Homo sapiens: one gene and its partners. The main gene of each other region encodes a partner of the protein of the gene in region 2 in a complex. Each region holds a gene or a part of one and is shown on either strand. Other genes may lie near its edges. The genes, in order: PRPF4, SNRPG, PRPF3 and SART1.

The links.
Region 1: SNRPG (region 2) and PRPF4 share a complex: the UniProt entries of both Homo sapiens proteins name them as parts of the U4/U6-U5 tri-snRNP complex.
Region 3: SNRPG (region 2) and PRPF3 share a complex: the UniProt entries of both Homo sapiens proteins name them as parts of the U4/U6-U5 tri-snRNP complex.
Region 4: SNRPG (region 2) and SART1 share a complex: the UniProt entries of both Homo sapiens proteins name them as parts of the U4/U6-U5 tri-snRNP complex.

The regions. Positions count from the first base shown.
Region 1 is NC_000009.12:113,285,656-113,292,677, reverse strand, and holds part of PRPF4 (U4/U6 small nuclear ribonucleoprotein Prp4), read right to left. Parts: intron 6,486-7,022; exon of another isoform or gene 6,470-6,485; coding exon of another isoform or gene 6,447-6,469; coding exon 6,388-6,446; intron 5,974-6,387; coding exon 5,850-5,973; intron 4,504-5,849; coding exon 4,414-4,503; intron 2,213-4,413; coding exon 2,090-2,212; intron 1,979-2,089; coding exon 1,871-1,978; intron 1,781-1,870; coding exon 1,662-1,780; intron 1,212-1,661; coding exon 1,018-1,211; 3' UTR 1-1,017. UniProt on the Homo sapiens protein: Plays a role in pre-mRNA splicing as component of the U4/U6-U5 tri-snRNP complex that is involved in spliceosome assembly, and as component of the precatalytic spliceosome (spliceosome B complex).
Region 2 is NC_000002.12:70,290,729-70,298,292, forward strand, and holds the start of SNRPG (small nuclear ribonucleoprotein G), read right to left. Parts: upstream 3,013-7,564; 5' UTR 2,922-3,012; coding exon 2,890-2,921; intron 2,731-2,889; exon of another isoform or gene 2,433-2,730; coding exon of another isoform or gene 2,425-2,432; exon of another isoform or gene 1,947-2,424; intron 582-1,946; exon of another isoform or gene 553-581; intron 1-552. Other genes in the region: protein FAM136A, read right to left, coding at 6,561-6,749. UniProt on the Homo sapiens protein: Plays a role in pre-mRNA splicing as a core component of the spliceosomal U1, U2, U4 and U5 small nuclear ribonucleoproteins (snRNPs), the building blocks of the spliceosome.
Region 3 is NC_000001.11:150,345,512-150,352,533, forward strand, and holds part of PRPF3 (U4/U6 small nuclear ribonucleoprotein Prp3), read left to right. Parts: intron 1-506; coding exon 507-625; intron 626-896; coding exon 897-980; exon of another isoform or gene 981-990; intron 991-3,645; coding exon 3,646-3,707; intron 3,708-7,022. UniProt on the Homo sapiens protein: Plays a role in pre-mRNA splicing as component of the U4/U6-U5 tri-snRNP complex that is involved in spliceosome assembly, and as component of the precatalytic spliceosome (spliceosome B complex).
Region 4 is NC_000011.10:65,964,722-65,971,743, reverse strand, and holds part of SART1 (U4/U6.U5 tri-snRNP-associated protein 1), read right to left. Parts: intron 6,653-7,022; coding exon 6,526-6,652; intron 6,403-6,525; coding exon 6,297-6,402; intron 6,043-6,296; coding exon 5,965-6,042; intron 5,858-5,964; coding exon 5,758-5,857; intron 5,669-5,757; coding exon 5,526-5,668; intron 5,395-5,525; coding exon 5,188-5,394; intron 4,486-5,187; coding exon 4,361-4,485; intron 4,274-4,360; coding exon 4,158-4,273; intron 4,066-4,157; coding exon 3,923-4,065; intron 1-3,922. UniProt on the Homo sapiens protein: Plays a role in mRNA splicing as a component of the U4/U6-U5 tri-snRNP, one of the building blocks of the spliceosome. May also bind to DNA.

The DNA of each region.
Region 1 (7,022 bases), on a different chromosome or scaffold from region 2:
ACATTTGTTTGACTCCTGACACAATGGTTTTGCTTTGGGGTAACATGAAGGTTGCCAAACTTCAAAGTAAAAAAAAAGATATTTTCTGACAAAGCAAATGTTCAGTTCAGAGTTGCCTGATGCTGTCAGCATTCCAAGCAAACTCAATAGGAAGAGGTGAAGTCTTCTTCACTGTATAACCATCGGCGTGGCTGCGGTCTACTGCTTCACATCCCATTCTCCAGGGAAAGGAAAAGTGCTCGCTATGATGCATTGTTTAACCAATGAGTGGTGAGATGTGCCTCTTTACCTGAGGGCTTCCAGACTATAGTTCAGCCACCTTGCTCTCTGGGTCATATGTAGTCCTGAAGCATGTACCATGTTATGGAAAGCCAAGTTTCAAGAATTAAAAATGCAGAGTCAGTCACAATCCTGGGTGCTGTGAGGAAGGCTATAAGGCATTCGAACAAATTTTTTTTTTTTTTGAGACAGGGTCTTGCTCTGTCACACAGGCTAGAGTGCAATGGCGCAATCTCGGCTCACTGCAACCTCTGCCTCCCAGGCTTAAGCAATCCCTCCCACCTCAGCCTCCCAAGTAGCCGGAATCACAGGCAGAAGCCACCGCGACCAGCTAATTTTAGTATTTTTTTGCAGAGACGGCATTTGCCATGTTGCCCAGGCTCGTCTTGAACTCCTGAGCTCAAGCGATCTACCCACCTCGGCCTCCCAAAGTGCTAGGATTACAGGCGTGAGCCACCACGCCCGGCCAAACAAAAGATTAATAAAAACAATGTCTACACAGTTCGTGGCAGGGCGTAAAAAGGTAATAAATTTTCAACCGTGAGAGGGGTTCCCCATCACCTAGGGATTGGGCTGCCTTCCTGGAGTGGGGGCTGACATGGAAATCCAATTCTACTGAGGGTCTATGCATGGTAATTGGCAGAAAACATGATAGAACTAAACACTTCAATTCTTCTCGTTTGAGGAAAACAGCTCCTTAGAGAGAGCTTGAGGTTCAAGTCCTTTTCCCATTGTCATCTATTCAGCCATCCACAGCTTGAAGGTCCTGTCATATGAGCAAGTGGCTATGAGCTGCCCATCGGAAGAAATATCTAGGCCCATCACTTTGCCTTCGTGGCCAGCCAGAGTCTTCAGCGGGGACCAGCCTGGGTGCGTCCAGATCTTGGCTGTGTTATCATAGGCACCAGTAAGCAAGAAGTTCCCATGGATAGCTACAGGAGAAGAGAAGGGGAATTGCTTGAGGAATTCAAGTATTCAAAAGAGAAGACAAAAGCACAAAAGTCTGCAAAAACATACTATTTTTAAAAAAACTTGTTTCTACAGACTTAAGGGAACAAATAACAGTAAGGTCTTTTGGCTCATTCCCTGACCGAGAATCTATTCAGAATAATATTAAGGACTCAGTGCTCAGAGCATCCATGGAGGAAAGAATGAAGCAAAGCACTCATGAAAGTCTGCTTTACTTCCTGCAACGAGAAGCGTGCTTTCCCACAGATCTAAGGGTATGGCAGAGGGAAGGAAATTATAATTTGCTCCTTTACCAGTAGGTCAATTTCTCTCCTGTTTTACTGCTCAGTTAAGCTAAAGCCTGGCCTGCATTCCACGGGAACACAATACTGTTTGTCTGTGTCATTTAGACGTAAAATAGGAGGAAAGCTTACGCTCAAACTTGACACCAGTCACTAAGTTCTGATGAGCAGGGATGGTGTAGACGCAACGCCGCTGTCGGAGGTCCCACACTTTGCAGGTGTTGTCACCACTGCCGGTTGCAATGTGATAGCTGTGGATTGGATGCAGTATTGAAGTTAGAAATAGAGTACTTACTGACCCAGAACCCTTTTTCGCCCCTCATTCAGTGTGTTTATTTTACCCATTGGGGGAGAAATTTATTCCATAGATTTCTTTCAGGTGGCCTTCTAAGAACATGATACAACGTCCTGTGCGTAGGTCCCAAACTCGACCAAATGCATCCAGTCCCCTGAGAAAATAATTTAGAAATGAACACTTTGAATCCAGTTCTCTGTGGAAGCAGGTATAGGTAAGAGGTGAGAGTACTGAACTGCCCCTGACTACATGGGAGAAGCCTTACCCAGTGCCAGCCAAAGAGCCATCTTGATGGAAGGCAATGTCATACACACCCATGCTATGGCCTTCCTGATGCAGGATCTCCTCTTGAGCCTCCAAATCCCATAAGCGCCATGAACGGTCATAGCTAAAACCAAATCACACTAACAATCAACCAGCTGATATTTATTCAGTTTCTACAACACATAAAGTATTCTAAGCCATTATAGCTTAAGTTATTAATGCTTCTGAAACTATTCATATAACCATATTAACAGGAAGCTCCTTTCTGACATAAACAATGACTCAACAACTAAGCTTATCTGCCTTAGGTGCTAGCTGAAAACCATGGAATCGCTGTAAACCTCTAGGGCTTTTTTTTTTTTCTTCTTTTGAGACAGAGTCTCACTCTGTTGCCCAGCCTGGAGCACAGTGGCGCAATCTTGGCTCACTGCAACCTCCACCTCCCGGGTTCAAGCCATTCTCCTGCCTCAGCCTTCTGAGTAGCTGGGACTACAGGTGTGCGCCACCATGCCCAGCTAATTTTTGTATTTTTCATAGAGATGGGGCTTCACTATGTTGGCCAGGCTGGTCTCGAACTCCTGAGCTCAGGTGATCCACCCACCGTGGTCTTCCAAAGTGCTGGGATTATAGGTGTGAGCCACCATGCCCAACCTAGTGGCTATTGTAATAACAGGATTCCCCAAGAATGGCCCAGCAAAGACTCTGTTACCTTCTTTCTTCCTCCACTGTTATATTCTTTCATTCATCAAGCATTTATACATTTACTAGGCCCTAAATTGGATGTTGGGGATACAAAAATCACTCATACACAAATAGATCAATGGAAGAGAATAGGAAGTACAGAAATAACCACACATATATGGTCAGATGATTTTCAACAAGGGTACTGAAACAATTCCAACAGAGAAAGGAAAGTCTCTTCAATACAAGGTGGTATAACTGACTATGCACATGGAAATAAAGACAAAAGAGACAAACACAATTTAAAAAACCAGGCAAAGCATATGACAGAGCACTCAAGAGCAATAATGATCAGGGTAATAAGAATGAAAATCACGGGAGATCACTACACACCTGCTAGATTGGGCAAAATGGTAAGACTGACAACACCAAATGTTAACAGGGATGTGAAGTAACCAGAACTCCGGGAATGTAAAATGGTGTAACCGCTTTGGAAAACTGGTGGGGAGTTTAGAAAAAGTTAAATATACATCTCATACCTCTACCCTATGACCCAGCAATTGTACTCATGTCCACAAAAAGCCTGGTACAAGAATATTTATAGCAGCTTCATTCTGACTGGCCCAGACCTGGAAACAGCCCAAGTGTCCATCAACAGGAGAATGGATAAACTATGGCACAGTCATAAAAATGAATAACCCCCAGCAATAAAAAGGAATTACTGATACATGCAACAACATGAATGACTCTTAACAATGTTATGCTGAAAGAAGCCTGCCACAAATGAATTCACAGTATGAATAGACATAATTAATTTGTGGTGATAGAAGTCAGATCAGCAGTTGCTTTAGAAGGGGGAGTTGGCTGGAAAAGGGCATGAGGGACCTTTCTGGGGTGATGGACTATTCTCTATATTGACAGAGGTGTCGATCACAGGAATGGTACGCGTTTGTAAAGACTGACAGCATTGTACACTTAAAATAAATCCATTCCATTGTATGTAAATTATAACTTAATGGAAAAGTTCTCTAACAGATTCTAGCCTCCCTGAACTTACAGAACCAGGAAGGGAGACTTATATACCTGTAGCATTGGACAAGAGTGAAAATCCTTGTTTTCTGGTAATTTGTAACTCTGAAATTTCAGATTAATTGTAATTTAAAGGCAAATATGGCTGGGCGCGTTACCTGTTATCTATAATCCCAGCACTTTGGGAGGCTGAGGCGGGAAGATCACCTGAGGTCAGGAGTTTAAGACCAGCCTGGCCAACATGGTGAAACCCTGTCTCTACTAAAAATAAAAAAATTAGCTGGGCATGGTGGCACGCGCCTGTAGTCCCAGCTACTCGGGAGGTCGAGGCAGGAGAATTGCTTGAACCCGGGAGACGGCGGTTGCAGTGAGCCGAGATCGCGCCACTGCACTCCAGCCTGGGTGACAGAGTGAGACTCCACCTCAAAAAAAAAAAAAAGGCAAATATACTTAGCTCTCACTATATTAAACATTCTCCTCTGATTCCAATTCCCTGCAGCCCAAGAAAATCCTACCTGAAGATCTCTGCTCTAAAAATTTACCTGGCAGATAGCCATAAAGGGTTAAGAAGATGCTACAGGCCTATATGGATAAAACAATAACAGGATGGCTCACCAGGTGGTGCCCAGGAAACGTCCTGAAGGATGCCACATTACCCGCGCCACACGCACTGTATGGCCTTCAATATCTGCCACTGGTTCATCACTGGAAAGGAACCAAACATATAAACAATTTTATAGACATATAAATAGTCACAAAACTGCTTACCTTCTGTGCAGACATACCCATTCTGTACAACACGAGAGGCTAAATTGTAACTACACTTGTAAACTACTTTGGCCCAATAAGCAAAATAGTCATTCTGCACCAAAGGAGTACCTGGATTCTAGAAAGAAAACATGCTTTGGAAGAGATATAAGGACACAGAAATCACATAGTTTTGGTACAAGTGGATTACAGATAAACCTTTTTCAAATTTAGGCCTGTTCCAAGATCCAAATGAAAAAGGAACTCCTAAATAGAGATGAGGCTTAGTCTCCTTTTGGTGGCCATTAAATTCTGCTACCCAGCAACCACCAAAAGATCTGAACATCAGCAAAAGGAAATAAACATGAACTCTAAGGAACGCAATTAAAAAGGGAACTTTGTCAATGTGCATACACAGAACAAGCCAAAGCCCAAGGGGAATAAACATTGCTAAGTATTACCAAAGCCAATTAAAACTCACTGCGCTCCTAAGTGAGACCCTGTCTGGTGAGGAGTGAAGACATTAATTAGCTCTCATAAAAATTCTCAAGTAAAAACCTTCATGTGTTTTCCCAAAGAAAGAAAACTAAACAATTAAATTCAGATGCCTTTTGGCCAACAGGGTGCTTCCGAAGTTTTTTTTTTTTTGGAAAACAATCACATAAACACATTTTTAAAAACTGTTGTAGTTGGAAAATACATTCTAGGTAAAGGATGATGCTATTGCGAGGAGACATCTCCGTGGTAATACTGCTAGACAGAACCTCACTTTCCTCTCCCCTGTGGCTGTTTGCTAAGAACCAACGAACTGCCAAGAATATTATATTTAGTTCATTGTTAATTTATCATGTAGGAGGTAGGCTGGATCTTTCTGGAATAAATGGAGCTAGGAAATAGTGGTCACTAGGCTATAGACAAAAATCAAGATCCAAAGTTAACAGGTAAGAAAAAACGGACATAACTCCTTTAGTAAGAAAAGGCCTAAGAATGAAATCTTCCACTTACTTCATTTTCACACTAGGTTACCTTGACTCTTAAACCATCTTGGGGGTTAAATGCCAGATTTTTTTTTTTGTTCTTTCAAGACGGAGTCTTGCTCTGTCACCCAAGCTGGAGTGCAGTGTGCAATCTCGGCTCACCACAACCTCCATTTCCCGGGTTTAAGCAATTCTCCTGCCTCAGCCTTAAGGTGTGAGCCACTGCGCATGGCCTAAATGCCAGATTTTTACTGAGGTCCTGGGGACCAACCAATCAAACATCTACTTTAGTGATGGCAGTATGGGCCACAGAACAGTGATATTCACCTGTCGAGACTCCAAAGCTTCACAGAGCCATCAGCCGCACAAGAGGCCAGGTTGACATCTTTTGGGTCCAAGGAGACAGTGGATTTGGGATGGAATACAATTGCTCCTACATTTGTGTTATGCCCTAAAGGAGTGTAAGAGATGCAAGTTAAAAGGTTCCTGCCTCTTTATAACCCATGTTATATACTAGGGAACATGTGGACATACAGAGTATTCAAGTGACTATTCAACTATTAAAACATGAACTATTTTAATTTAAGCTAATATTTAAATTACATTTTTAAAAAAGCAAAACACAAAAAAACCCATTTTGGTTTTTGGTTTAGAGATTATAAAATGCCAGAGTGTGACTGCACATGAGAGAAAAGTGGATGTGTAGGAAGTTGTGATAGTCCAGTCTTGCAGCCAGAGAAAACCAAGTCAAATCAAATCAAGGATTAATGCTGTGTGTATGGGGTCTGAGTGTCAAGCAGAGTTTAAGGCTTAACTGAGTTCACACTGGGAAAAAGACCGAGATTTGGATAAGACTCTAACTTACCTCGAAGAGTGTGAAGGAGGTTGCAATCAGGAACAGACCAGAGCTTGCAAAGCCCACTCCTATCAAATACAAAGGAAAGCATCTCAGCCAGGGTTGGTCTGGGAAGGAAAAGGTACCTTGGTAATATTACTAAAGGACAATCTCTTCTCACCCCCAATAAACTTTACAATGGCTGACAGAAAAATAAAAGCCTTATAGTTAGAAGGGTTATAGAAGAAAAAGCTACCTCCAGCCCACACGCAACCAGAGGCTTTTACTGGACTATAATTAACACTACACCAGTAGCCATTCTCCTTAACTTTTGGATCCACTTGTGAGGGAAGGTGGGGCAAATTAAACTATCCAATAATACGAATATTAATAGTGATACTGTCCTTAAATATGAATAGTATTTTGCTGATTACAAAGTATTTAAATTTTTTTTTTGAGAAACAGTGTCACTCTGTCACCTAGGCTGGAGTGCAGTAGTGTGATCACAGTTCACTGCAGCCTCAACCTCCCAGGCTCAAGCAATTCTATCACCCAGCCTCCTGAGTAGCTGGGACTAACAGGCGCATGCCACCACACCTGGCTAACGTTTTAAAAAATTAAATAAATTTTTAAAAATTTTTTGGGCCAGGCGCTGTGGCTCACAC
Region 2 (7,564 bases):
TAATCCCAGCACTTTGGGAGGCCAAGGCGGGCGGATCACCTGAGGTCGGGAGTTCGAGACCAGCCTGATCAACATGGAGAAAACCCGTCTCTACTAAAAAAAAAAAAAAAAAAAAAAAAAAAAAAAAAAAAAATTAGTCGGGTGTGTTGGTGCATGCTTGTAATCCCAGCTACTCGGGAGGCTGAGGCAGGAGAATCGCTTGAACCCGGGAGGCACAGGTTGCGGTGAGCCAAGATCGCGCCACTGCACTCCAGCCTGGGCAATAAGAGTGAAACTCCATCTCAAAACACACACACACACACACACACACACACACACACACACACACACATATATGAAGTAAACTATATTTTAATAAGATACATAAAACGTATCAAATATAACACACAAGATCTTATACAATCTTTACAACGACTTTGCAATTATGGTCTATCATTTCCACCGTTTTTACAGATGGAGAACTAGGCTTGGAAAAGCTAAAGCAATTTTTCAAAGTCACACAGCAAGTGAGAGCAAACACAAATAGTTCAGTGTGACTGGAGAACGGAATACCTGAGTATTAGCAGCTAGAAGGTTTGGTGCTTGAATGCTGGGTTAAGTACAGACTCGATTTTGCATACTGTGATAAATTATTAAAGCAGTCACTGGCAAGACTACCGTGGCAGCAAATTTTAAGAAGTGGAAGGAAGAATTCAGTTAAGCCAGTGTATCTCAACTTCTATACTACTGACATTTGGGACCAGTTAATTTTGTATTGTTGGGGGCAGTCGAATAAGCAGTAGGATGTTTAGCAGCACCCTGGTGTCTACTCACTAGAAGCCGGTAGCACCAGATTCCCTACTCCCCATTTAAGAACACCTGAGTTATGCTACACCAGAAGGAGGGCATAATGGTGTAAAAGAAGATGCTATCTGTGAGAAAGCAGAGGAAGAAAAAATTTTTAAGTCATTTTGGCGGCAGATCTGACCGGATTTCACAATTCATGAAACCTACGAGGAAGAGAAAGGTATTAAAACTAGCTTCCTTCTCTGAAATTTTCAAAAACTATGTTATGAATCAGAAAGAAAATCTTAGATTACAAGTAGAGAATGGTCTTTTTGTTAAAAAAAAAAAAATCACCATTTCACCAGTCCCTGATGAATCCAGAGGATACTTACATCACCAAAAATAACTTTCAGATAAAAAGAGTAATTTTCACAATAATTTCTGAGTAACTTCTATTTTTTTTTTTTTTTTTGAGACGGAGTCTCGCTCTGTTGCCCAGGCTGGAGTGCAGTGGCGCGATCTCGGCTCACTGCAAGCTCCGCCTCCCGGGTTCACGCCATTCTCCTGCCTCAGCCTCCCGAGTAGCTGGGACTACAAGCGCCCGCCACCAAGCCCACGTAATTTTTTGTATTTTTATAGACACGGGGTTTCACCGTTTTAGCCATGATGATCTCCATCTCCTGACCTCGTGATCCGCCCGCCTCGGCCTCCCAAAGTGCTGGGATTACAGGCGTGAGCCACCGCGTTGGGCTTATGTTTTAATAATTAATTCCTTAACAGACCTAACTAAAATATACATAGAAGTAGTTTTCATACAAAAGATGGCTTTGATACAAATGGACCTTTAAATGCAAAAATATTATTATTTTTTGAAACAGAGTTTCGGTCTTGTTACCCAGGCTGGAGGGCAATGGCGCGATCTTGACTCACTGCAACCTCCGCTTCCCGGGTTCAAGCGATTCTCCTGCCTCAACCTCCGGAATAGCTGAGACTACAGGCGCACACCACCTGCCTGGCTAATTTTTTGTATTTTTAGTAGAGACGGGGGTTTCACCATGTTGGCCAGGCTGGTCTCGAACTCCTGACCTCAGGTGATCCTCCCGCCTCAGCCTCCCAAAGTGCTGGGATTACAGGCGTGAGCCACTGTGCCCGGCCGCAAAATTATTAAATAGGAACTTTACCTTTTGTCTGACTTCCATGGGCCTGGTAATAAATGAACTAACTATACACAAAGCCAACCACATGCTACGCCAGAAAAAACTGATCCCTGTAAAAATTTTGCATCCTTTGTGCAATCCAACTAATACATGTAGAATTCCAGCATCAGGAAGTATAAGCAAAACAGAAACGTAGTCAGGAAACACATAACCTGTTAAGTCCACTCAAAAAGTATTTGAGGAATTCAAAGCTTTACGTTGAGTCCTACCTAAAGTAAGGCTCTCCTACTTAAAGTTGTTTGACTTTACTGGGTGTGTAGAAAAAACTTCAAAAAATTAGCCTTCTCTGACTAGAAAAAATTAATGTTCTTAAAAAAAAAGAAAAATGAATGTTCTTATATAGTTTCAACATCAGAGCAAGATAACACATGACATTCAAGCTTAACGTAAAAGAAGGCAAGAAAAAGGAATGAGGTTTCTAAGTAAAAGCTCAAACACCTACAAACACATTTGCTAAGACTAAAGTGGCTTTCGGATTCTGATGCCTCACGTAGTTTTAAAAACACTTCCTTCCCTTCCAGCCCCTCCTTAGTTCCTTCAGAGAATTTCCCCCTCTAGCCGTCTATCTAGAACATGATACTATTCGAGATGTTCAACAAAAGGTAGCACTGGAGATCTTCAAGGAACGAGGGACAGCGCCGGGTGACCAGGGGCCAGACCGCGGGACCTGGAGACTAGTCGGCCGGAAGGAGGTGCCGTGGCTGCCGGCTGTAACCACACCGACGCGCGAGCTCTGCGCGGGCTTCACGTCTCATGCGCGGGAGCCTGGCCGGGATCCCGGCGACCTCGGACCGGAAGAAGAAATGAAGTGAAGCGGCTCAAGACATTCGGCTAACGGAGAGGGAACCAAGGGACTCGCAGGACGCAAATAACTGACCACTTCGGTTTGGCTCTCACACATACTTACTTTTTCAACTCGGGAGGGTGAGCTTTGCTCATGGTGTATACTCCGCGGGCTCACAGATGCCTTGGAACGCAACGCACGGCTTTCCTCACGCTCCCGCTGTAGGCCCGGCGTCTTGCGTCTGGCGTCATCGACCTCGTTAGCCAATGGATTGTTGGCAGTTTTTACATTTCACCTCGCGATATCTCAGCGCCTCGGTCATCGTTGAGCTTCCGGTTATGTCCTCAGCGATTGGCCAGGACGGAGGGGTGCGTCCTCTAGGCACCTTTCTGAATTCCGTTTTCCTTGTACAAAATTGAGATAACGGGTATTCCACCGGTGGGTATCCCTGCTCTTTTTCTTTTCTTTTTGAGACGGAGTCTAGCTCTGTCGCCCAGGCTGGAGTGCAGTGGCGCGATCTCGGCTCACTGCAAGCTCCGCCTCCCGGCCTCACGCCATTCTCCTGCCTCAGCCACCCGAATAGCTGGGACTACAGGCGCCCGCCACCATGCCCGGCTAATTTTGTGTATTTTTTAGTAGAGACGGGGTTTCGCCGTGTTAGCCAGGATGGTCTCGATCTCCTGACCTCGTTATCCGCCCGCCTCGGCCTCCCAAAGTGCTAGGATTACAGGCGTGAGCTACCGCGCCCAGCCGGTTATCCCTGCTCTTGTCTATGGAACAGCCAAAATAAATAAAAATAAATAAATAAATAAAAAAAGCCGGGCGCCGTAAATCCCAGAACTTTGGATCTCTTGAGCCCAGGAGTTCGAGACCAGCCTGTGCAACATAGCGAGACCCCTTCTCTATTTAAAAAATAAAATTGAGATATTGAGATAACGGTCCCGTCTCTAGCTCCTGGGCAAACCCGGCCAATCCCGCATGTCTGTGGATCGTATCGCTTATTTTCTTCATATATACCAATATACCAAATGATAATGATCCCTGGAGGAATGGGCCTCTCTCTATATATGTATATTTTTTTGAGACGGAGTCTTGCTCTGTCGCCCAGGCTGGAGTGCAGTGGCGCGATCTCGGCTCACTGCAAGCTCTGCCTCCCGGGTTCACGCCATTCTCCTGCCTCAGCCTCCCGAGTAGCTGGGACAACAGGTGCCCGCCACCACGCCGGGCTGATTTTTTGTATTTTTAGTAGACACCGTATTTCACTGTGTTAGCCAGGATGGTCTTGATCTCCTGACCTCGTGATCCGCTGGCCTCGGCCTCCCAAAGTGCTGGGATTACAGGCGTGAGCCCCCGCTCCCGGCTGGGCCTCTATATTTTTTTGGCAGGTAACCCTACAGCATACTGTCAGACCAAGTAGGGTTCCCGTAACATGTAAATTAGCAGCCTCTGAACCATTGTAGAGTAAGGTGACTGGGTCTGTCTCCAAGAATTTGAATCTATTTCTGACTGAGGGGTCTTGCAAAAAAAATTTTTTTTGAGATGAGTTCTTGCTCTGTCGCCTAGGCTGGGGAGCATGGTGTGATCATGGCTCACTGCAACCTCGAACTCCTGGCCTCAAGCAATCCTTCCACCTCAGCCTCCTGAGTTGTTGAGACTACAGGCGCACGCCACTGCACCCAGCTAATTTTTTTTTGTAGAGACGAGGTCTTGCTTTGTTGCCCAGGCTGTTCTCAAATTCCTGGCCTCAAGAGATCTGCCTGCCTCCGGCTCCCAAAGTGCTGAGATTACAGGGGTTAGCCAGCATGCCTGGGAATTCTGAAATTTTTCAAACACTACCTCCAGAACTCACTGATGTGCTATTGCCCCTGTATATAAAATGTGAAGTGCAGCACACAAACATTTTCTAATATAAGGTGTTCTTTTTTCATGTCAAGATGTGTAAAAAGTGGTCTCGGACTTGTTCCCAGTTGTTACCCCAAAATTATAGAAGACTAAACCAAAATAGAATACCTTGTGTTTAAATAGGGGATAGTTCTCAAAAATTCAGTTAATTCCTGATATTCTGGAATGGCTCTATATAAATATCAATGATAGTAAAGACTTAAACTCATCACATATTTTGCACTCTCTTAGTACTCAAAATCCTAGACACTGAATTTTTTCTAGCAGGGTCATAGCTTTGTACCTTTACTACCACTTGCTATTAGTGTTTAGTTGAAGCTAGAGACCTGACATAGATAATGAATTTCTCTTTTTAGCCTCATAGACAGTTTCTTTTCTACATTAATGAACTTCAAGTCACAATGTCCTAGTCTCCTCTCAAAGTTTTTCCCATTTACAGTGAACCAGTTCTGCATCTGAACCATAACAACTAATTTCCACTCTTCTGGACATTTTAACTCATTTAACCTGTTAAAAGGAGAAGCATCCTGAGAAAGTTACATATTCACCACCCAGATATAAGGAAAGAAGACTCAATAGTGGGGAGAAAATTAAACCTTATTTATTTTTAAAGTCAAACCACTAGGAAAATATATCACAGCCTGGAAACAGCAAACGGACAGGCTATATTATAATTTCAAGTAATAAGTTGGTGAAAATTCAACGAAGTTGCTATCAAAACAATAAGGTGCCATGCTGGGGCAGGAACACTGCCAGCTGCACAAGCCCCAGGCAAAAATGGTATTTGGTAATGGGGGCTGTCTCTCCTTTGCTCTAAGGGAGTCAGCTCATCCTAGCCCAAGTTGCTTACTTTTTCTCCCTTGAATTTCCTGTTGCCAGGGGTTTGTCTCAATTGGGCTCTGTTAATTCAGGGGGCTAAGTAGGCAATGCTAGGTGTAGGCTTTCATTCCATATGTTCTAATAAAACCAGGTTTTCCCAAATCCAGTACTTCATTTACTCTGTTGTAATCAAGTAGCCAACTGCTCCTCTTTTACTGTTCATTCCTAGATACTAGTATATATCACAATCAAAACCCCCTTCTCTTCAAGGGGAAAGTGTTACTGCAAGATTGTCCTGTCATTTTGTTACACACAGCCTCAGGGGCCATCAGCCAGTAATTCTGCTTCCCATAATTAGTGTGTCATCACCTCTCATGTTTCTGCACAGTCTCCAGGCTGAAAGATGCAGCATGTAATAATTTTAAGAAATGTACATCCACATCTTGATGACCAGAAATGGGGATCCACAAGGAACATTTCAAAGTTCTTATCCAAACTAGTCTACCTCCCAGTTCCACATCTTAAAATCAACTTGTATGCCCTTGTATAAATTACCCCAAATCAAGAAAACAAAGACCCAGAAAACTTTCTTTCCCTTCTAAGTTAGTGACCTCATTGATTTTGTTTCACAGCTTATGGAAGATGGTGGGGTGACACTTTTGGTAAACAGGATGTTGGCAACAAAGAGAAAATATCTCTCCTCAGACTCCACCAACTCTAACCTGCCAGCCTGTTAGTACCTGTGTAGTAAGAAGAGTCTGGTACCTTGGAGGGCTCTGGCTTGTTACAGGGGAAAGCCTTACTGCCAGGACAAGCACTGGCCACAGGAAATAATAAGCTCTAAAACTCTCCTGTAATATCTCTGACTCGATTTAGCACCACTTTTTTCCATTTCATTTTTTAGGGACTGAAACATAAAATAACCAGTGTCCAGAGGCAAGTGACATATGCCTTACGCTTGTGGCCATCCTTCATTTCTTCATTCGTAAACTTTGCTTAAAAGACTAAAATTCCCAATTCCTTATAAAAAATATATTCTTGCCCTCAGCCCTGATGGCCACTGGCAAATACTTTTATTTTCCAATTGATAAGAGAGCCTCCTTCATCTTCTTGGTCATAGTTGGGATGAGGTGCATGTGGTCATCCACACACTTGGTCACACAACTGTCCAGCTGCTGCTTCACCTGAAGCTCCTTACTCCCAGCATCTATTGAATCTTTGGCTTTGTCGTTGCAATGCATGGTGCACCGGGCCAGGCGGTCCTGTGGCAAGAAGGAAGAACGTAGAAAAAGCTGAGAGTAAGGCCTCCATTTACTGCGTGCTCATTATGTGTTAGGCCCTGTGCTACAGGTTTAATATGTATTATCTTGGTCAATTAAAGGGACATGGTAGTGTGATTGGCCAAGTTTTTTTTTTTTTTTTTTTTTTTGAGCAGAGTCTCACTCTGTTGCCCAGGCTGGAGCGCTGCGCTGCAGTGGCACAATTATGGCTTACTGCAGCCTCAACGTCCCAGGCTCACGCTATCTTTCCACCTCTGCTCTCAAGTAGCTAGGACCACAGGCACACGCCACCACTCTTGGCTAATACTTTCTTAAAAATTATTTTTGTAGAGATGGGATCTCCCTATGTTGCCCAGGCTGGTCTTGAACTCCTGGGCTCAAGTGATCCTCCCTCCTTGGCTTCCCAAAGTGTTGGGATTAGAGGTGTGAGCCACTGTGTTTGGCTTTCCAAGACTGTCTTGACTCAAACAGAAGATGGCACCAGGAGGGCTCAAACTATTACTAGAAAGCAGGTGAATGACAGAATAAATTGGGCAGAACATTCTTCCAGGAAATGAGAGGTCCCTAGAGGTTATTGTAAGATGTACAAACATCTTGATTCTTTTTTTTTTTTTGAGACGGAGTTTCGCTCTTGTTGCCTAAGCTGGAGTGCAATGGCACAATCTCGGCTCACCACAACCTCCACCTCCCGGGTTCAAGTGATTCTCCTGCCTCAGCCTCCTGAGTAGCTAGGATTACAGGCATGCGCCACCATGCCTGGCTAACTTTTTTTGTATTTTTAGTAGAGACGGGGTTTC
Region 3 (7,022 bases), on a different chromosome or scaffold from region 2:
GGCTAATTTTTGTATTTTTAGTAGAGATGGGGTTTCACCATGTTGGCCAGGCTGGTCTTAAACTCCTGACCTCGTGATCTGCCCACTTTGGCCTCCCAAAGTGCTGGGATTACAGGCATGAGCCACCGCACCCAGCCAAGTAATCCTATATTATAAGAGTCTAAGGGTCTAGAGGACAAAAAGTCTGTAGGTCTTTACATTGTCAAGAACAATGAGATTGTAAGTATTTTTGGATGATAGTAAATACCTCTCCCTGACTCTTAGAGTAAACTTTGGTTAGTAATGTAATGGTTAATGTAAAGTGCTAGACTTTGAAGAAATGTAAGAGTGTGGAAATATTTCTAGACTCATCAACTCTACCTTTTAAGCATTCATCTATTTGTTTACTCCAGAGGCCTTTGTTTATAGAGAGGAAACCATTTTGGATTCATCTTTTTACTTGCCACTCCATTCAGGCAGCTGCTGATGCTAAAATGGAAGACATAACTAAACTTTCCCTTCTCCAGAGTTCGAAATTTGAGCAACCCAGCCAAGAAGTTCAAGATTGAAGCCAATGCTGGGCAACTGTACCTGACAGGGGTGGTGGTACTGCACAAGGATGTCAACGTGGTAGTAGTGGAAGGGGGTGAGTCTGAAAAACTTGAGGGAGACTGTCCCCAGACAACCCTAGGCTTAGAGTGATTAGCATTGTGGGGAGAAAGGAGAAAAAGATCGTATTTTAGTGCCATACCTGATATAATATGCTAGGTCTCTGCTTCTGTGTTTTTTGGAGTAGAAGGCCCTAAGATGTGGTTCCTGAGATTGCTTCAACTACCACATTAATGTCTGAGCTCAGAGGTTCTTTCTACCCCATCATCTTCCACAGTTCTGGCAAAATTATTCTTCTCTGTTTCCAGGCCCCAAGGCCCAGAAGAAATTTAAGCGTCTTATGCTGCATCGGATAAAGTGGGATGAACAGACATCTAACACAAAGGGAGATGGTGAATGGGGGTTAGAGGGGATTAAGGGGGAGAGCTATGGGAGGTGGGGATGGTGCATCTGTCCGTTCATCTTATTTCCTCCCTGTGACACTCTTGATAACACTAGATAGTGTTCAGGAATTTTAGAAAGACCCGTTTAGACTTTGAGCCTCCTAGACATTCATACAATATTTACTACATGATTATATGCATGAATGGTAAAGCTATTTTTTTGCCTATCATTTAAGGCTTTTCTACCAGCTGGTTTCTGTGTCTGTCCTGGATCTGAGTACCGGTTACATGAATTTATTCAGTATTTGAAAATTCAGCAAGCAGCTAGGCATGGTGGCTCATGCCTGTAATCCTAGCACTTTGGGAGGCTGAGGCGGGCAGATTGCCTGAGGCCAGGAGTTCGAGACCAGCCTGGGCAAACAACGTGGTGAAACCCCATATCTACAAAAAGTACAAAAATTAGCTGGATGTGGTGGCACACACCTGTATTCCCAGCTACTCAGGAAGCTGAGGTGGGAGGATCACTTGAGCTTGGGGAGGTCGAGGCTGCAGTAAGCTGTGATCGTGCCACTGCAATCCAGCCTGGGTGACAGAATGAGACCCTGTCTCAAAAAAAAGAAAAAGCAAATCTAGTAAGCTATACATTCATGTGTACAGTGTCTATATTATATTATTATTTGATTTTTTTTTTTTTAAGGATTGAAGCCAAAAAGATCTTCAGGTCAAAAAAGCTCTGCTTTGATCAAACTATTTCTTTTGTCTGATATATATATATACACACATACACATACATACACACACACACACATACATACACACATGTACACACACATACACATACACACAATACACACACATACATGTACATGTACATACTCACACATATGCTCTTCAACTTAATGATGGGGTTAGTTCCAATAAACCTGAGATAAATTGAAAATATTGTTAAGTCAAAAATGCATTTAAGGCCAGGCACGGTGGCTCACACTTATAATCTGAGCACTTTGGGAGGCCGAGGCGAGCAGATCATTTGAGGTCAGGAGTTCGTAACAGCCTGGCCAACATGGTGAAACCCCGTCTCTACTGAAAACACAAAAATTCGGGGCGTGGTGGTGGACCTCTGTAATCCCAGCTACTCGGGAGGCTGAGGCAGGAGAATCGCTTGAACCTGGCAGGCGGAGGTTGCAGTAAGCTGTGATCGCACCACTGCACTGCAGCCTAAGCGACAGAGCAAGACTCCATCTCAAAAAAAAAAAAATGCATTTAATACATCTGACCTACAGGACATCATAACAGCCTAGCCTTCCTTATACTTTCTCAGAATACTTAGATTAGCCTACAGTTGGGCAAAATCATCTAACACAAAGCCTATTTTTATCTCATGTAAGAGTATTTTACTGCATATTGCTAGCCCAGGAAAATCTCAAAATTTAAAATTTGAAGTACATTTTCTACTAAATATTTATCACTTTCACACTATACTCAAGGCAAAAAATTGTAAGTCAAGGACTGTCTGTCTATATTTGAAGGCCAGACATTCTTCTGGCCATCATACTCCCATTAGTGTTCATTCTTCTCATCTTTGAACACCTGGATTAGCATTTAAAATCTGCAGAGAGGCCTGGTGTGATGGCTTATGCCTGTAATCCCAGCACTTTGGGAGGCCGAGGCGGGTGGATCACCTGAGGTCAGGAGTTTGAGACCAGCCTGACATGGTGAAACCCCGTCTCTACTAAAAAATACAAAAATGAGCTGGGCGTGGCAGCGTGCGCCTGTAATCCCAGCTACTCGGGAGGCCTAGGCAGGAGAATCACTTGAACCCAGGAAGCGGTTGCAGTGAGCTGAGATCATACCACTTCACTCCAGCCTGAGTGACAGAGCAAGACTCCGTCTCAAAAAAATAAAAATATAAATAAAATCTGCAGAGAGTTCATCTTAAGATACCTGAGAATAAAAAATATTTTGTTCTACACGTGCATTTTTTTTTTTTTTTTTTTGAGATGGAGTCTTTGCTCTTTTGCCCAGGCTGGAGTGCAGTGGCACCATCTTGGCTCACTGCAGCCTCCGCCTCCCAGGTTCAAGTGATTCTCCTGCCTCGGCCTCCTGATAAGCTCGGATTACAGGCACCTGCCACCACACCTGGCTAATTTTTGTATTTTTAGTAGAGATGAGGTTTCGCCATGTTGGCTAGGCTGGTCTCAAACTCTTGACCTCAGGTGATCCACTCACCTCAGCCTCCCAAAGCGCTAGGATTACAGGCGTGAGCCACCACGCTGGCCGATAATTTTGATTTGGTATATCTGCCCTCCTCCTCCATTGGGTGAAAGTTTTTTGAGAGTAATATATGATGTTGACATATGAAGCCTGCCTCCCAAAGTGCCTAGGACAAGTTTTTATTCTTGACTGCTTGTCTTTTATTTCCTTATTCCCAGTACCTGGTGGAGCTCTTGATTCATAACAAGTGCTATGTAAATGCTAATTGTATCAATTAATATTACTGCCTACTTGGAGCTTCAAGTCTAATTTGGGGAAAATAAAGAGCAACAGAAAAGAGAACACTTGGTCCAACACATAAAAAGGGTGATAATATTTTAGAGAGTTTGGGTAGACTTGAATATTATTTGTTTAGAACCTGAATCTCAAGTCTAAGTCTGTAACAAGATTTCTCTTCCAGATGATGAGGAGTCTGATGAGGAAGCTGTGAAGAAAACCAACAAATGTGTACTAGTCTGGGAGGTAGGTGATCCTTTGTAAAACATTGTAAAACTTTAGCCAACTCCTGAATATTTATACTATTTGAGTGGAGCAATGGAATGTAAGATGTAATCAGTGAATAATGTTTTAAATAATTTATGTTTCTTTTTGGAATCCATTTTTAAATGGTTGGCAGTAAATTCTTCCTGATCATCTGTTTAATTAAATTCGTGAGTATTTAGTATATGCTATCTGGGGAAGTGCGTGGACAGTGCTGCTGGTAGCAGGAATACAAATTCTCTACCGAAAATTATTTATTTCACAGTCATGAATATGAGACTTGGAAACGGGAATGAATTGTTGTTGGATTTACCTTTGGATATAGTGAAGGAAGTACTAGACTTAAGAATATAAAGTTAGGAGGCTGGGCAGTGCTGCTTATTAGCTGTGCAATCTGGGCAAGACACTTAATGTCAAATTCTGTTGCCTTAGCTATTGTTCTCTATATTGTCAAGTTTTTGAGAATGAAATTAGATAATTATGTGATAGTGCTTCATAAAATGTGACTGAATCACTCTTCAAGTGGAATATTTTTTATGGTTATCTAGTTCTTTAACCCCTGAAGCCTTCTTAGAGAACCAGTATTAAAACCAGTATTAATGTTTTCATGTTTGCTTTTAGGTATAGTACATGTATATCTTTTTTTGGGGGCGGGGGGGCGGGGGGCGGTATGGAGTTTCGCTCTTGTTGCTCTTGTTGCCCAGGCTGGAGTGCGATGGCGTGATCTCGGCTCACCGCAACCTCTACCTCCCAGGTTCAAACGATTCTCCTGCCTCAGCCTCCCAAGTAGCTGGGATTACAGGTGCACGCCACCATGCCCGACTAATTTTTGTATTTATAGTAGAGACAGGGTTTCTCCATGTTGGTCAGGCTGGTCTTGAACTCCCAACCTCAGGTGATCCGCCTGCCTCGGCCTCCCAAAGTGCTGGGATTACAGGCATGAGCCACTGTGCCCAGCCCCTCCATTTCTTTTTTTTTTTTTTTGAGAGAGTTTTGCCCTTGTTACCCAGGCTGGAGTGCAATGGTGCAATCTCAGCTCACCGCAACCACCGCCTCCTGGGTTCAAGTGATTCTCCTGCCTCGGCCTCCCGAGTAGCTGGAATTACAGGCATGAGCCACCACGCCTGGCTAATTTTGTATTTTTAGTAGAGACGGGGTTTCGCCATATTGGTCAAGCTGGTCTCGAACTCCTGACCTGAGGTCCGACTGCCTTGGCCTCCCAAAGTGCTGGGATTACAGGCATGAGTCACTGCGCCCGGCCATATATCTTCTATTTTTAAAATGTGCTTATTTCTAGTATATGTGCTGCTGAAGCGAGCAGTAAAATGTGCTTATTTCTATTAATGAATTCTTTATTATAAAAGTGGTACATTATTACAAAAGTAGTAAATGTTTATTAAGATTAGAAACAAATTCTAATTATACAGAAGAGTACTTACTGAGACCCAGCACAGTGGCTCACGCCTATAATCCCAGCACTTTGGGAGGATGAGGTGGTTGGATCACTTGAGCTCAGGAGTTCAAGACCAGCCTGGGCAATATGGCGAAACCCCGTCTCTACAAAAAATACAAAAATTAGCCTGGCCTGGTGGCGTCTGCCTGTAGTCCCAGCTACTTGAGAGGCTGAGGTGGGAAGATTGCTTCAGCTTTGGAGTTTGAAGCTGCAGTGAGCTGTGACTATGCCACTGCACTCCAGCCTGGGCACCAGAGTGAAACCCTGTCTTAAAAAAAAAAAAGAAAAAGTCTCAGGCCAGGTGCAGTGGCTCATGCCTATACTCCCAACACTTTGGGAGGCTGAGGTGGGCGGATTACGAGGTCAGGAATTCGAGACTAACCTGGCCAACATGGTGAAACCCAGTCTCTACTAAAAATACAAAAATTAGTGGGGCGTGGTGGCCAGTGCCTATAATCCCAGCTACTTGGGAGGCTGAGGCAGGAGAATCGCTTGAATCTGGGAAGCGGAGGTTGCAGTGAGCCGAGATCGCACCATTGCACTCCAGCCTGGGTGACAGTGCGAGACTGTGTCTCAAAACAAAAGTCTCTTCCTATTCGCTGATCTCTTCAGACCAGTCTTTATAGGTAATTGCTATTAATAGTTTTTCTTCTGAAGGAGCAATCAAAAAATAAAAATTAAAAAAAAAGGTTTTCATGTATCCTGCCTTATCCCAGATTCTTCAATTTATGCATACAAATTAGATGATAATAACCATAGTATTTGTTCTCTGTTTTATAAGTTCCCACCTGCATATTTGTTATCTTTTTTTAATCAACTTTTTTTTTTAGAGATAGGGTCTTGCTCTATTGCTCAGGCTGGTGTGCAGTGGCGCAGTCATAGCTCGCTACAGCCTTGAACTCCTAGGGACAAGCAATCCTCCAGTCTCAGCTTCTCAAGTATCTGAGACCTCAGGTCCACACCACTGTGCCTGGCTAATTTTTTTTTTTTTTTTTTTTTTTTTTAGAAATGGATCTCACTATGTTGCCTAGGCTTGTCTTGAACTCTTAGCCTTGAGTGATCCTCCCACCTCAGCCTCCCAAAGTGCTGGGATTATAGGCATGAGCTACTGTGCCCAGCCCTACCTTCACATATCTCAGCACCCTCATCTTTCAATTTTCTTCTATTTATCTCTGAAGAGTACTTACTGAAAAAGTCCCGGCTTCTTAGAGAACCAGTATTAATGTTGTAGGAATTTAGTTTTCAGGAATTGTCTCTCATGTTCAGAAATAAGCCAAGTTCTGCTCCAGCCTCCTTATTGGAGTCTACTCCCTGAACGCCTCTTGAGGTATTGCTTTATGACTGCCATTGCTGCTGGTAACTTTGGCAAGAATGCCATTCTGCCCAGTACTGTCTTTTTCTGTTGTAATTCTCTGCTGGTACCTGCTCTTCTTCTGTTCCCCGCCCCCAGTTGTTCTTTGTTGCTGGGCCCCAAAGCCTCCTGCTTATATAAATAGTTTCTGGGGCCTTTTTGAAGGCTCAGATTTAGTCCTTAAGGCCTGGTAGGAGATAAGTTTATCTCATTCCACCTTCCATAGTTCTTCCTGACTTGCTGTTCCACCCAGGCACCAGAGCAAATAATTCCTCACTTCATTTCAAAAAACTAAAAGCCTTATGCATATGAATTCGTAAAATCTCATACAAATATCCAAGGAGGCCGGGCGCGGTGGCTCACGCCTATAATCCCAGCACTTTGGGAGGCTGAGGCGGGAGGATCACGAGGTCAGGAGATCGAGACCATCCTGGCTAACACGGTGAAACCCCGTCTCTACTAGAAATACAAAAAATCAGCTGGGCGTGGTAGC
Region 4 (7,022 bases), on a different chromosome or scaffold from region 2:
CTTTGTGAAACCCTTAACTGCCTTGTCCCTCCTCCCTAGAAAACCCAATCCTCAATCCCACCATCCACTGCTTCAGGGCATTAATCCCACCATCCCCCTCCTCAGCTCCTGAATCCCACCATCCCCCTCCTCAGCAGCTCCTGAATCCCACCATCCCCCTCTTCAGCAGCTCATGAATCCCACCATCCCCCTCCTCAGCTCATGAATCCCACCATCCCCCTCCTCAGCTCATGAATCCCACCATCCCCCTCCTCAGCTCATGAATCCCACCATCCCCCTCCTCAGCAGCTCATGAATCCCACCATCCCCCTCCTCAGCAGCTCATGAATCCCACCATCCCCCTCCTCAGCAGCTCATGAATCCCACCATCCCCCTCCTCAGCTCATGAATCCCACCATCCCCCTCCTCAGCAGCTCCTGAATCCCACCATCCCCCTCCTCAGCAGCTCATGAATCCCACCATCCCCCTCCTCAGCTCATGAATCCCACCATCCCCCTCCTCAGCTCATGAATCCCACCATCCCCCTCCTCAGCAGCTCATGAATCCCACCATCCCCCTCCTCAGCTTCTGAATCCCACCATCCCCCTCCTCAGCAGCTCATGAATCCCATCCCCCTCCTCAGCAGCTCATGAATCCCACCATCCCCCTCCTCAGCTCATGAATCCCACCATCCCCCTCCTCAGCTCCTGAATCCCACCACCCCCCTCCTCAGCACCTCATGAATCCCACCATCCCCCTCCTCAGCAGCTCATGAATCCCACCATCCCCCTCCTCAGCTCATGAATCCCACCATCCCCCTCCTCAGCTCATGAATCCCACCATCCCCCTCCTCAGCTCCTGAATCCCACCATCCCCCTCCTCAGCAGCTCATGAATCCCACCATCCCCCTCCTCAGCTCATGAATCCCACCATCCCCCTCCTCAGCTCATGAATCCCACCATCCCCCTCCCTCAGCAGCTCATGAATTCCACCATCCCCCTCCTCAGCTCATGAATCCCACCATCCACACTGCCACTGGCAGGCCTGCTCTTCTCCCAGGGTGTATCTGCTCTCCACTCTCCAGAACAGCATCTCCCATCTCTTTGCACCACCACCTCTGCCACCTCTTCACTGGAAAAACACCAGAACAATCGGCCATGGGCTGCCTTGACTTCCCCTAAACAAGGTCACCCACAGCTGCTGTGCCCTCCCCACCTTCCCTCCTGAAATAAATGATGACACGAGCTGGCTTCACTCAAGCCCACCCTCCACTTGCACTCTAGGCCCCAGCACCGCCTGCCGAGATCTTTTTCTTCTTCCGTCATAAATGTGTCTCCCACATACTCTAGAATCTCCGGTAGTCAGAAAAGGCTCCTTTGCGGGTGGGAAACTTGATTGGATGCTGCTTACAACAAAAAACTAAAAAGACATTTTGGGGGATAACTGGAAAATGTTGGCATGCGAGCTGCTGTTTTACAGCATTTATGGGCTTGTTAGGGCAGTGTGGCTATGCGGGAGAAGGCCCTGATTTCGCCAGATGCCTACTGAAGTCGTTAAGGATGCAGTGTCATGATATCTGCAACTCCCAGTGGTCAGGAAAAAAAGAAGAGAAAGAAAAGAACTGTAACAATGTTTATAATTACTGACTCTAGAGGACAAAGGTGTTCACTGTGATAGGCTTTCCACTTTTTTGCCTGCACAGTGTGTGGGGTGTGGCTCATATGTTTAAAAAACCTTCTAGGTGGCCGGGTGTGGTGGTTCATGCCTCTAATTCCAGCACTTTGGGAGGCTGAGGAGGGTGGATCACAAGGTGAGGAGTTTGAGACCAGCCTGACCAACACGGTGAAACCCTGTTTCTTCTAAAAAATACAAAAATCAGCTGGGCGTGGTGGCATGCACCTGTAGTTCCAGCTACTCAGGAGGCTGAGGCAGGAGAATTGCTTGAGCCCGGGACATGGAGGTTGCAGTGAGCCGAGATCGCGCCACTGCACTCCAGCCTGGTGACAGAGCGAGACTCCGTCTCAAACAACAACAAAAACTTTCTAGGCTACACCAGGCCTGGTGGCTCATGCCTGTAACCCCAGCACTTTGGGAGGTGGAGGCGAGAGGATCGTTTGAGCTCAGGAATTTGAGACCAGCCCGGGCAACACACTGAGACCCACAGGCGCACGCCTGTAGTCTCAGCTACTTGAGAGCCTGAGGCAGGAGGATCCCTTGAGCCCAGGAGTTCAAGGCTGCAGTGAACTATGATTGCACTACTGCACTCCAGCCTGGGCAACCGAGCGAGACCTTGTTTCTTAAAACAACAACAAAAACAACCTCCTAGGTGAGTCTAATGTGCAGGCAGGCTGAGATCCACGGGGCTAGAAACCCTTATGTTCATTTCAGTCATAAAACAGCCCTGTCAGCCTATTGCTCCATTTCTCTGTTCCTTTTTAGCCGGGCAAACTATGTCCCAACACCTGTTCTTAGAAATAAAGTATTACTGGAACCCAGCCACGCCCACTCACTTACAGACTGTCTTGGCTGTTTTCCCTATAACAGCACAGCATTCAAGGTGCCTAACAGAGACCATATGCCCTTAAACCTCAAATACGTCCTCTCCAGCCCTTCAACAGTAAGCCTGGCCTCCGTCCCGGGTTCAGCCCTCACTTTTTCAACTCCCCTGTCCTCCGGGTCCTGAATCCACTGCAACTGTCCCCACTTTGCCTCCCAGTAGTATCAGAAGCTTCCCTCCCTTGCTCCCTCTCCTGGACACGCTTTCTTGGCTTCTTCCTAGGTGAGAAGTGTGGGGTAGGGCTAAAAGTGTGGCCTCTGGAATGATGGAGATGACAGAACCTTCCTCATAGGGTGTTGCTGGGAGGATGGAATGAATCAACAAACACAGAACATGTGAGCAGTGCCCGGCCCACTGTGCCTCTGGGGCAGCGACGACCATGGGGTCAAGGCTCCCCCTGCGTTGGCCCCCTACCTCTCCATCTCAGCTCACGCCACCCCTCACTCTCTGCTCTGCTCCAGCCTCCCTGGCCCTCAGGCACTCTAAGGTCACTTCTCCTGAGACACCTGCTGGTTGGTCTACTGCCTAAATGCCAGCCTGTCCACCTGCTGCCACCCCTAACCCCCCGCAAGGCTGGCTCCTCTGTGTGACTCAAGTCTCAGATGAACTAGTACCTTGGAAAGGTCTTCCCTGCACTCTCCCATCTAAGATCCCAACCCCCGGCACGTTATCTTGGTTTACTGAGTGCCCAGCTCCCACCACCATCAGAAATTACCGTTCCTGCATTAACAGTCACTGCTGCTCCCCACGCTCTCCCCCACACACTCTAGAAAGCCAGCTCCATGAGCCCAGGGCCCCATGGCTATCCTGTTCACCAATGACCTTCTCAGCCCAAGAACAATGCACTACTCACAGCAGGCATTCAACAAACATGCACAGAAGAGAGAGGCAAGGAAAGGATCCCCTACTAAAGCAGGCATCTAAAAATTTTTGCAAAACATGACTTTAAACAGAATAGAGGGCTGGGCACGGTGGCACACACCTGTAATTTTAGCATTTTCGGAGGCAGAGGCAGGCAGATCATGAGGTCAGGAGTTGGAGACCAGCCTGGCCAACATAGTGAAACCCCGTCTCTACTAAAAATATAAAAATTAGCCGGGTCTGGTGGCGTGCGCCTGTAATCCCAGCTACTCAGGAGGCTGAGGAATAAGAATCACTTGAGCCTGGGAGGCGGAGGTTGCAGTGAGCTGAGGCTGCGCCACTGCATTCCAGCCTGGGCGAAAGAGCGAAACTCTGTCTCAAAAAAAAAAAAAAAAAACAAACCCAGAAAACAAAAAACAAATGGAAAAGAGGCTTCAGACAGGAATGTGGCTGTCGCCTATGACACAGGTGCTCGTGAGGACAGGTGACTGCTGACGCAGTCACCCTGCCCATGCCCAGCCTCACCTTCTCGCCACTGTCTCGCAGCTGCTGTAGCTGCTGTAACTGTCGCAGCCGGCGTCCCTTCTCCAGCTGCTTCTGCAGCTCCAGCTCCGCCTCGTCCTCCTCCAGCACCTGCGGGGACCCCGGCGGTGGAGCTCCACCTTCCTCTGGGGGAAACACAGGGGATGCCTGCTCAGACCATCTCCTCCAACCCGCGGCTCCTGTCCCTGCCCCTCCCACCCCCTGGCCGGGCCCTCACCCTCATCACTGATGTCCATGTTCTCCACTCGGGTGTCGTCCGACGGCAGGGGCTGAGGCACAGGCTCCTTCTCCTCCTCCACTTCGGACACTCGGCGGCGACCCCGTCCCCGCAGTCTGAGGGAAGGAGGCCTCTCTGGTGAGCACCGGTCCCCAGGCCACCCCAGCCCAGCCATCTCGCCCCACCACCGTGTCCAAGCCCACCTGGAACCAAAGTCCCCATCCTGAGTCTGGTCCCCGAGAGGCAGCAAGTCATCTGCCCGCACTACTACCTCCTTCTCCTTCTTGCGGATTTTCTTCACCCTCCGCTTGGTCTTTTTAAAGGTCACCTTAAGGGAAGAGGGGCGAGACATGGAGCGGGGGCCACAGAAAGGCAGGTCGCCACAAGCCCTCGAGGGTGAACACTTCTTTGGTGTTCCTCTGTGCTAGCCAGCGTCCTGAGCGCTTCCCACACATGAGCAACATGTGGGGTGGTTACTATCTCAATTCCACTGGTGAGCTAGGGAAACTGGGGCACAGGGAGGTTAAGTACCTTCCCCAAGGTTGCCCAGCTCCTAGGTGGGAGAGCTGGGCAGTCTGGCTCCAGAGTCCTGCTCTTACCCACTGAGGAAGACGCCTACCGCGCCAGCTGTCTACCTCACGTTCACACAGTCACCCTGTGGACAGAATCCACGCACACCTCTCCAGTCACCCCTCACCCACGCTGTCACTCATCCTCACAGCAACCTCAGGAGGCGGCTCCTGTCACTGCCATTCCAGATGGGGTGCCCCAGGCTCACAGTTAAATGGTTTATCCAAGGCACGAGCTGGCAGCATGGCAGAGCCGAAACAGACTGGGGCCCATCTGGCTCAGCAGCCCTGACCCATCCACACCTGGTGCCTCCCCCGGTTGCCATTTAGTGCTCACCCGCGAGGCCAAGCGCTTTGTGAACACAAATACTCGCCCTGTCTTCTCAGTGCCTGCGGGCAGGGCAGGAGCCCCAGAGGGAGGGAGAATCTTGACCCCGAGTATAAGGCACGGGAGGGCTCACCATCTCCTCAGGCGTGAGGTATTCGGAGGCCAGCCGGGGCCCCACTGTGCTCAGGGACTGAGCCTGCAGCCGCAGCTTGGCCCGGATCTCCTCCAGCTCCCGCTCCCGCAGGCCATCAGCCGTGCCGCCCTGCTCCAAGCGGAAGGAATGTGGCCGCTCCCCTTCAAGCTCTTCGTCATACTTGGACAGGATAGAGCGAGGTTTTTGCTGCAAGGCAAGAGGTACAGGTTGGGACCCAGGCTGGCTCCTGAAAAGCCACTGAGCCACCACCTCCTCAGAGCCCCCATTCCCGACATTCTCCACCTCAGCCCCCGCCACCCAGCCTGCCCAGGCCGTGCCTGCGCCAGGTCGTCCACGCTCTCGTCCTCGGCATAGGGCAGGTAGTCAGGCTTCTTCTTCCGCAGCTCCACATTTTTCTCTGCCCGCTCCTTATCCACCAGGTTCACGTTCACCAGCACGTCCTCCTCCTCCTGCAGCACGCCTGGGGGCAGCACAGAGCAGTGGCCATTCACACTTGTCCGCAACTCAGCAGAGGCTGTGCCCCCACCCAGGGCACCCAGCTCGCATTACCTTTGTCCTTGAGGGTAAGAATCATTGTCTCCCCTTCTCGGAAGGAATCAATGGCATGCTCCACGGTGAGGCCCTGCAGGTCCCGGGCACTGTACAGGTCCTAAGGGAAGAATCGGCGAGTCAGGAACCTCCCTCCACGCACCCAACCTCGGGATTCCGGTAGCAAGGCCACCAGTGTCCCCTGTACCACCCCTGCTGCAGCCTCACCTGCCGCCTCTGCCCGAACTCCTCCTCCACCAGAGTGCTGACACCAAACTCTTGGTCCATCTCCTCCAGTAACTTGGCCTACGGGACAGGGAGGGGTGACCTAGGACTTCAGGCCACTCAGCATCACCAGAAAACACTCAGGGCTCTACCAAGCGGAGTGCAAAAAGGGCAGGCCTTGCAGGAAAGCTGCTGAGAATCCAAAGTAGATGCTACCGACCACGGCCCTTCCCTTCTCCAAGCCCCGTCTCACCTCTCTGGGGTTGGCCCCCGCCTCAGTGCCGTCAGGCCACCAGAAGCACTAGGCGACCACCCCATGCTGCCCAGGTGCTCACCCTCTTCTCTGCCAGGTCCTTCTCCTTCTGCAGCTGCCGGCTCCTCTCGATCCAGGCTGCAGTGTCGTCCAGCCAGGGGTCATCCTCTCCTAGGGTCTTTATCTTCCTGAAGAGGGGAAAAAGTGATGCTCAAGGAGCCCAGCTCCTGCTCCCCACCCCACTCAAGAGGCAGCCAAGGATGGTGGCCTCCCCAGCCCTTCCCTTGCCTGCCCTGGCCAGGACCCCTCACCCCAGCTTTTGGTTCAGCAGGCGCTTCTCCTTGGCAGCCGCCAGCTTCTCCCGCAGCTCCTCTCGCTGTCGCAAGGCCATAGGGTTGATGACATCAGCTGTCACGGGCTCCTCCTTGGTGCCCGCCTCTGGAAGGGGGGCCCAGACGTGAGGCTATGCCCGCCCATGGCTGGTGGGGAGAGGAGGGAGCCACTCACCCTGCCCCCTTCCAGCTCAGGGGGCCAGAAGGGGTCAGGACAGGAAGGAACAATCCTTCACCTCCCTGCTCCCACTTCGTCCCCACACTCCTGGCCAACCCATGCAGCACAACAGGACCCTCTGTGGCTTCCAAAGCCCCTCAAATCGTGCTTTAAAGAAAAACAAGAAACCCACCCCCGCACAGCGCAGTCTGCAGCAAGTGTGCACATCTTCCAGTCCATCTAACAACTCACAGCCAGAGTGAGTATGCGACGGCCACAGCTCCAACTCAGAGAGCAGGCGGAGCCCCAGATCCCCATT